2 linked regions of the Homo sapiens genome follow. The protein of the gene in region 2 purifies or fractionates together with the protein of the main gene of each other region. This does not show direct contact. Each region holds a gene or a part of one and is shown on either strand. Other genes may lie near its edges.

The links.
Region 1: the proteins of GPATCH2 (region 2) and KCNJ10 purify together in Homo sapiens (affinity purification with mass spectrometry; one large-scale study listed by BioGRID and IntAct). This does not show direct contact.

The regions. Positions count from the first base shown.
Region 1 is NC_000001.11:160,059,982-160,063,801, forward strand, and holds part of KCNJ10 (ATP-sensitive inward rectifier potassium channel 10), read right to left. Parts: intron 1-3,820. UniProt on the Homo sapiens protein: May be responsible for potassium buffering action of glial cells in the brain. Inward rectifier potassium channels are characterized by a greater tendency to allow potassium to flow into the cell rather than out of it.
Region 2 is NC_000001.11:217,606,993-217,610,812, forward strand, and holds part of GPATCH2 (G patch domain-containing protein 2), read right to left. Parts: intron 3,409-3,820; coding exon 3,329-3,408; intron 3,201-3,328; coding exon of another isoform or gene 3,168-3,200; exon of another isoform or gene 1,197-3,167; intron 1-1,196. UniProt on the Homo sapiens protein: Enhances the ATPase activity of DHX15 in vitro.

The sequences.
Region 1 (3,820 bases), about 58 Mb from region 2:
CTGTCATTCATATTCAGAAAATTGAGCCTGTTTCCCTGACAGGTGTCCTCTCAGCTCCCTTTCCTTCTTGGGGCTCCTGTTCCCTGCATGAAGAGCAGCCTCTGACCCTCACTCAGAGGAGTCTAGGGAGCTCACCATGACTCTGGGAGGCAATCTCTCTGCCCCCTCTCAACTTTTTACTTATTCCTTATCCACATTCCTCCCTTAAGAAGGAGGATGGGGTAGGGATGGCATGAGGACACTTACTAGATACAGAACTAGATTCAGAGGTGAGTGTCTCACTGTCCTCTGTCTCCTATAGTAACTAACTGCCCGAGCACAGCAGGGAAAGCTGAAGTTACATACATTGAGCAGTTCTCTTTCTCCAGTAGGGAACATTTGGAGCAAAAGAATCACACCAGAGTATAAGGGCTGGGGGAGGTGTGTTCCTGCATGAAGGAAGACAGATGGATGAGGCGGCTTAAGGAGAATCCAGTAGCCAGAGGGGAAGCATTTTAGATGAGGGGAAAGGAGAAGGAGTAGAAGGGCCCTGAGGTTCTCCCATGCAATTTTGATGGGAGGAAACATCATGGAGATTAGCACTCAATAATATTTGCTGATGAGCAAACCAATATCAGCTTAGTTCTCTATCTAACAGAGTTTCTGCAACTGTGACCCCATCCACCCTCCCAGGCCCCAGCACACCACTGTGCAGTCAGCCCTCAAGTCTCTGGGATCCCAATGGGCCTTCCTCTCTTCCCTTTTTAGGGCATCTGCTCCCAACTGCTAGAAGATGCTCTGGACCAGAATAGCAGGTGAGCCGTAGATACAGCCTACAGATCCTCGTGCAGACGTAGGATAATAACTGGAAAGGCCAGTACTAGGCAGCATGAAGGACTTATAATTGATAGAGATCCCCAACTCCAAACCCTAGCTAAGAAGGCTGTGGGGTTACTTTCCAGTGATCCAGAGTTCGTAGCAGGAGTGGGGCCGGTAGGAGGGTGGGAAGTGAAAGGAGGTAGGCTCACTCTGCCTAGGGGTAGTGCAAGGGTCAAAGTGACCTTCGGAGGTTCTTTCTAGACCCAGAAGCCCACTTAAGGCTCCTAGACCCGTTCTTCTCCCCACCCCTTCCCCTCACCATGCCCCCACTCCTTCCCAAAAAAAGGTGGCTAAAAGACAGCTCTGTTGGAATTGTAGATAGGGTTGGGGGTGGGGTCATCTGAGTGAAACCAAGAGACAAATAGTTGGGGGAAAAACACAAAAAAACTAGCGGTGAGAGACCTCCATTCTAGTCCCAGACTTGCCACCAGCTGCCTGGACACCATCATCTTACCTCTCAGAGCCTTGCTGGGAAAATGATAACTGTTCCATCTACCTCCCAGGGCCAGGAAGGGCTAGGAAATATCTATGTGCCCTGGGCAAATGCAAAGACGGACACACTGGACCTGTGCCAGCGAGGCCAGGTGGGGCTTTAGTTATTCACATAGAGCTCAGTCCAGGGTACTTGACTCAGCTCTGGGGTGGGGGGCCTGGCCCACCTAACTGCTTCCATGGTTGAGGCAGGAATGGGAGCATTGCTTAGAGTGCAGCAAGAGGCTGTGTCCATGGTTAACGTATAAGCAGGTGCAGTCTGGGGCAGCGGGACATTCTTAGCCCCAGGGCCACATTCTTAAGGTCACAACAAGTGCAAACTTGTTATAACCAGTGTCAGAGCAGCAGAGGGCAGCAAGGGCATGGGGGGGAGGGACATGGTGCTGAGATGCCTGCGGCCGTGGAGGGGGTGCAAAAGGGAAAGGGGGGTGGGGTGGAGGGAGGGTGGGTGTGCAGGTGCATATGCCAGGAGGTGGTGTTGTGGACGTGCGATCTGTGTGCTGGGGTCAGTGTGTTGTGTCTGGGCACATCCGTTTGGGTGTGTGTTGGGAGCCGTGTGTGGGGCCGCATAGATGAGTGTATGCCTGTGTGTCTCTGCATATATGAGCCCCGGGGAGTCCTGTAGTGGGAGGAGGAGAGGTGGCAGCCACAGGTCCAGGCTGGGCATACGGAACCGAGAAGTGGGCAGGCTCTGAGTGCCCCTTCCCCTTCTCAGGCCTCAGAGAACCTGCATTCCAACTCCTCCACAGACTGCCCCTGCCCCTGTGAGCCTAGGGCCTCTCCCCTCTGTGTGCCCTCTGCAGCCTGCCCTGTCAAATGCCCATCTCCCCAGCCTGCCCAGAGAGTGGGGGAGTCACCTCCTGCCCATCCCCCCTGGCCCAGGGCCCACTCCCCCGTGCTCTCTGGGCCCTCCGGACACTGGGGCGAAGGGGGGGTGGTGGGGAAGGCTCTGAAAGCAGGTGACTGTTTGGGGGAACTAGGGGACAGAGCCCCCATTGTGCCTGCCCCGGAGCCGCCTCAATGGAGCTCCCTGGCACAAAGGGGCTTTGACAATGGGCAGGACATTAGTATGCAGAGCCAGCCCCTCAGCCCTCTCCCTGTCCCACAGCCGAGGGGCGGGAGCTGGGGGACTGCTGGTAGAGGGTGAGGGGGGCCCAGGACTGAGACTAAGGAGATCTTGGCCCACAGGGGCTCCCCTGGGGGCACTGCCCAGGAGACAGGGGAGGAGACTAGACTAGGGCCTCCAAACCTGCCACTCGCCAGAAAGGACTTTCCAAATGGAAAAAGCCACGGGGACTGGTAGGAGTGGAGCGGGAGGGGCTGCGGGATGCCAAGCCCCTTGGTCCCAGGCTGGGCTCTAGAAAGAAGTGGGTGGGCAGTCTAAGTCCTCCCACGTTTTGCCTCAGTTTTACCATCTATGCAAAGGAATTTTGTGGGCAGGAGAAGAAAAACAGAGTAATACATAGCAAGTTCCCCAACCCCAGCAGGAAGGGCATGTGCTCAGGGTTTGGGGTCTTTGGGGTTCTACTTCCTTGGGGTGCCACCTTCTTTGAGATCTCCACCTGCTCTGGTTCTGGAGGCTGAAGAAGCTACTACAGGGGAAGCAGGGGTTAGGGACAAGAGTCGCCTGCCACCTGTGCTCTTCCAGGGAATTCAACCTGAACTAGTGAAGGTGGAGCTGGAAGCCCAGCTCAGGGGAATTTGACTGAAGGGCCAATGAGCCAGGACTAGCTCTTCCCAGTATATGTCTAACTCCCCATCTGCCTCCTCCTGTTCTACAATCTGTGAGGAGAAGCTTCCCTTCTCCTGCCCAGGGAACCCCAGCAGGCACCCCTATCCTCATTAATGCCCTCAGCACCACCAACTGGCTTTTCCAAGGCACCATGTTGTGCCTTGTGGTGCCTCAGCACAAAGGGCAGGGCCAGAAGGCATGATCTGGGGAGGGGCTCCTGGGCCTTGGGTGGTGGGAGAGCTGAGAGGAGGGCAGTGAGCGGGACTGAGCACCTCATGAGAAGCAGGGTTGCCCAATCACAGACTTCCTACGAGCCCCAGGAAGAGAAGGCCGGGGACACTTTGCAGAACTGCTCCCCACACGGCAAGACAGAACAATCTCTGGGCTTGAAAATGTCTTCCTAGCTTTCTTTCTCCTCTTTTCAGTTGCTGTCAGTATCGGAAGTTCTCCCTGCTGTCTGCCCTCAAGGCTTCCCACTGTACTGCCCTGGCCCTGGGCTCACCTGAGATTGCTGGGGAAAAGAAAGGTAAAGTCTGCTTCTTTCCCCGTCTTAGGACCTTGCTCCTCCACTCTCCACAAAAAAATTCTGGCGGGGAGAGCAGAGATGGAGCTAGGCCTTAGAACTCCTGGGTTCGGGGCCCAACAACCCTGTCAACTCTCTCTGGGAACTTGCACAGGTCACTTTCCCTCTCTGGGCCGAGCTCCTATGTGTAGCATTGGATGGATCTCCTCTGCAGC
Region 2 (3,820 bases):
AATCTAACTACAACTAAAAAGAAGAATCAGAGTGTGGATTCACAAAGGTCTGACTTCAAAATCTATAAATTTTCTGCAATATCACTTTGCTCTCTATAAAACTAAATACAGTCAATCTCGTTCCCATTGTGGATTCCATATTTTTAAGTCGGCCTGCCTGCTAAAATTTATTTGTTAACCCCAAAATCAATACTCACAATTTCTGACTTTTGTAGTCATTCAGTAACATGTACAGAGCAGTGAAAAATGTTGAGTTGCCCGACATACACGTGCATTCCTACCAGAGGTCAGTCAGGTGACTTTCTTCCTACTCGTTTAAACTATCATACTGTAAACATATGTCCCTTTTGTAGTCTAAATTAGTACCAGATTTTTTTTTGAATTGTTGTGCTTTTTGTGGGTGATTATTCTGTTTTAAATAGCCCCTTGTATAGTGCTGAGAAATGCCGTCTAGTGCTCCTAAGTGCAAGAAGGCTGGGATGTGCCTTATAGAGAAAAGACTTGATAAGCTTTGTTCAGCCGTAAGTTATAGTGCTATTGGCCATGAGTTCGATGTTAGTAAGTCAACAATATATATTAAATGTCTCTAAACACAAACATAAACAAAACAAGGTTATCTATTGATCAGTTGGTGAAAATGTTGTGACCAGAGGCTTCCAGGAACCTAACCCTGTCTTTCCCTTAGGAGCCATGATTCAGTATTCCCTAATTCAATGTTTTCAGCAAGTGTATAGAATACAGTTATGGCAAATAGTCAGAATCAACTATAATACAACTGAAAACTTTCCCCCAAAAAATGTTTACATTGATATTTCAGTAAAAGATTCTTCCTCTGTCATTTCCTTCAAAGATACTACATCATTATATTTATGCAGTCATCATTCATCTGCTTAAGAAACCTTTTGTTGGCCTTCTGTTTAATGGGTTGCAGCTCCATGTGTTTTACTTTGCTCAGAAAATTAATCTCTCTTAAAAACAATCTGGCTTTCCAGTGTGAAAGTTTAAGGCAATTAAATTTCACTTCTTATTACCAGATGTCATGGATACTGTGTAAAGATGACTGTTTTGTGAGATTATGATTTTTAAAACTAGATATTATAGTTATACATAATATAAACAGCATAAGCAACAACAACAACAATGAAAACTTAGCAAATGAAATCAGAGAAATAGCAGCACAAATTGGAACTCTTACCTTTCTTGCCCAAGTCAGAGATTTTATTGAAAAAAAAAAATTACAGTACTTAAAAATTCAAACAAGGACAATTCAGGGTTGAAAGAAAGAAAACCCGAAGGAGTCCATTGTCTTCAGTAAAGTTTTAAATACAAAAAACATAGACCAGAAAAACAGCTTATGGCCTAATGCACTAGTTCCATGATAAACACACATATATAGTATGTCTCCATCAAGTGAAACTTCATCACCTTTTTACAATTTAGAGAGGGAAAGCAGCTTTTAGTATGGTTAAGCCATGTATCATCAATACCATGAAGCTAGCCTATCAGTTGTAATAGCTTCTATAAAATACCACAGTGAGATTGCAATAAGCCTAGAAAATGGGCTACAAATCCCAGCTATGCTCAAGCAAGCAGTGAACCAAAAATAAAAATAGGTAAAACTGAACCAAGAACTAGATAGCATTCATCTAGATTCATGATTGATAAGGCAAAGTTCATAGGCCAAGGTTTTAAAGTGACTTATTCAGATCTAAAAGACAGTCATTATACAAAATAAAACAAAAGCATTTATGTAATTCAGAAAAAAAACATGAATTTTCACTCCAAAGACATAGCACAGAAAAGCTTACTTACAATTACCAACACCACACTATTGTACCTTTAAATATGCAAAGGTAAAGAGACTCAAAGTTGCATTTTACCATTTTTAATCTCTCCAAATTAGACAAGCAATCTAAAAGAAGATGTCACACATTCCTGTTTAATGCATTTGCTGAAATCTTTCAGACTTTAAAAACTTTAGGTAAAAGCAATGGCAACTTGAAGTTTCTTTTCCAATCATATTTAAGTTAGCCATTAAATGCTGAATTAACAATTAATCCATACAATAATATAAAAATACACATATTAAATCACATTGTTTTTCATTATTGAAGCTTAATAAAAATATCATTTTAATATAACCATTTTGAAGAACTCAAATGGCTGAACTTATTATAGTGTCTAAATTATACCATCAATAGAAACATTACATTTTCCCCCCAGTTGGTGAAAATGAGCTCATGCAAGTATTTCTGACACTCACAGTGACACATATGGTCTGCCATTCTAAAGATGTACAAGCAGCTCTCACTTTTAAACATGACAATATGATTCAGAATCACACAGCATTTGTTAAAAATACCAGCTTTCACATGTTTCATTAAGCTCTAAACCAAAATAATAATTTTGATGTGTTTCAGGTATCAGACAAAGCAGATAATTTAAAAGGTAAATGATTCTACTAGTGCAGACTAGTTATCACTGTGGCTAATTTAAAACGAGGATGATTTTTGCAGTACAATGAAAGCTATACTATAAAATACAATGAGTTTGCAATACAAGCAGATTACCCAAGTAGAAAGGAAGCTGAACAAAATACAAACTCCAGCAAAGATTATCAACCTTACCTACTACTCATCTTAGCCCTTGTTAAAATACCCTGAGTAAAATGCAAATATTTTAAATAATGCTGGTTATATAAGACTTCTCTAAAAATGAACCATAAATGTCAATGCATCATGATTTTTATTTACAACAGTCAGATATGTAAAAATTAATTCTTAATCAGTCACAATATAAACATTAAGGAATACTTGTCGATCTGGAAGTTTAAAATTTTCTAGCTTTGTTAGCATTTTGGCAAAGCAAGTATACATAAATGGATTCAATGTAAAAAAAAAACCATAAAAGAGAAAAATATATAATTTACAGTAGTTTCTATCCACCCTGGGCCAACCTAAATCCCTAGAAAGCCTCCCCAGTCAGGTTCACTTCTGACTAAAAGGAAGAATACCAGTCCTCCAGCAAAAACAGCCCCATCTTTTCATCAAAGAGGCTCTCACTTCAATGATATTCCTCCAGGGAAGAGGACAGGAGCCAGGTTCCCTCGAATGTCATTCCCCAGATGTTCAAAACGTAACTAATTTATTAGCATTAGAAGATTTGGTTTATAGGGGAATCTCACTGGTCCAGTTTGTAGCCTACAAAAAAATGGATTATTTTTAAGTTTAACATTAGAATATGAATAAAGGATGAGGATGTGGCTTTTTATTCCATAGAAATGGAAACATTTCCAAACATGACAATTACACAGAAAAAGTATGCCTACCATTGAAGTTGGAGTCCCTCCAGATTTTTTAATATTCTTTGAAGACATTCCATGAAGGCGACTGAGTCTAGCTTGGAAACCTGTAAAATCAAAGTACTCAATTTAGAAGTTTTCTATGATCACTGAAGCATAGAAGAAGAAGAGGATCCTATCAATAGAGAAAGAAAAGTAAGTTGGTGGTGGCGGTGAATGCCACGAATATTATTTGGGAAAATGCAAAACTCACACTTAAAAAAACTGAAGCAATGCCTAGCAAAGTACTAAGGCAGTCAGCACTTAACTAACCAGTGTTCAATCACTAGAGTAATAAATACCCATTTTCTTTTTTCCGAATTAACATTCTTATCATTTCAACATTTTCTCAATGAGCCTAGCAAGAAAGCAAGTCAATTTTTCTAATAATTTGAAAGCATGATAAATGTAGTAGCTATATTAGTGGCCAATATGTTTCTTTACAGCATCTTGTGTTTACATTCTCTAATTTCCACTTTA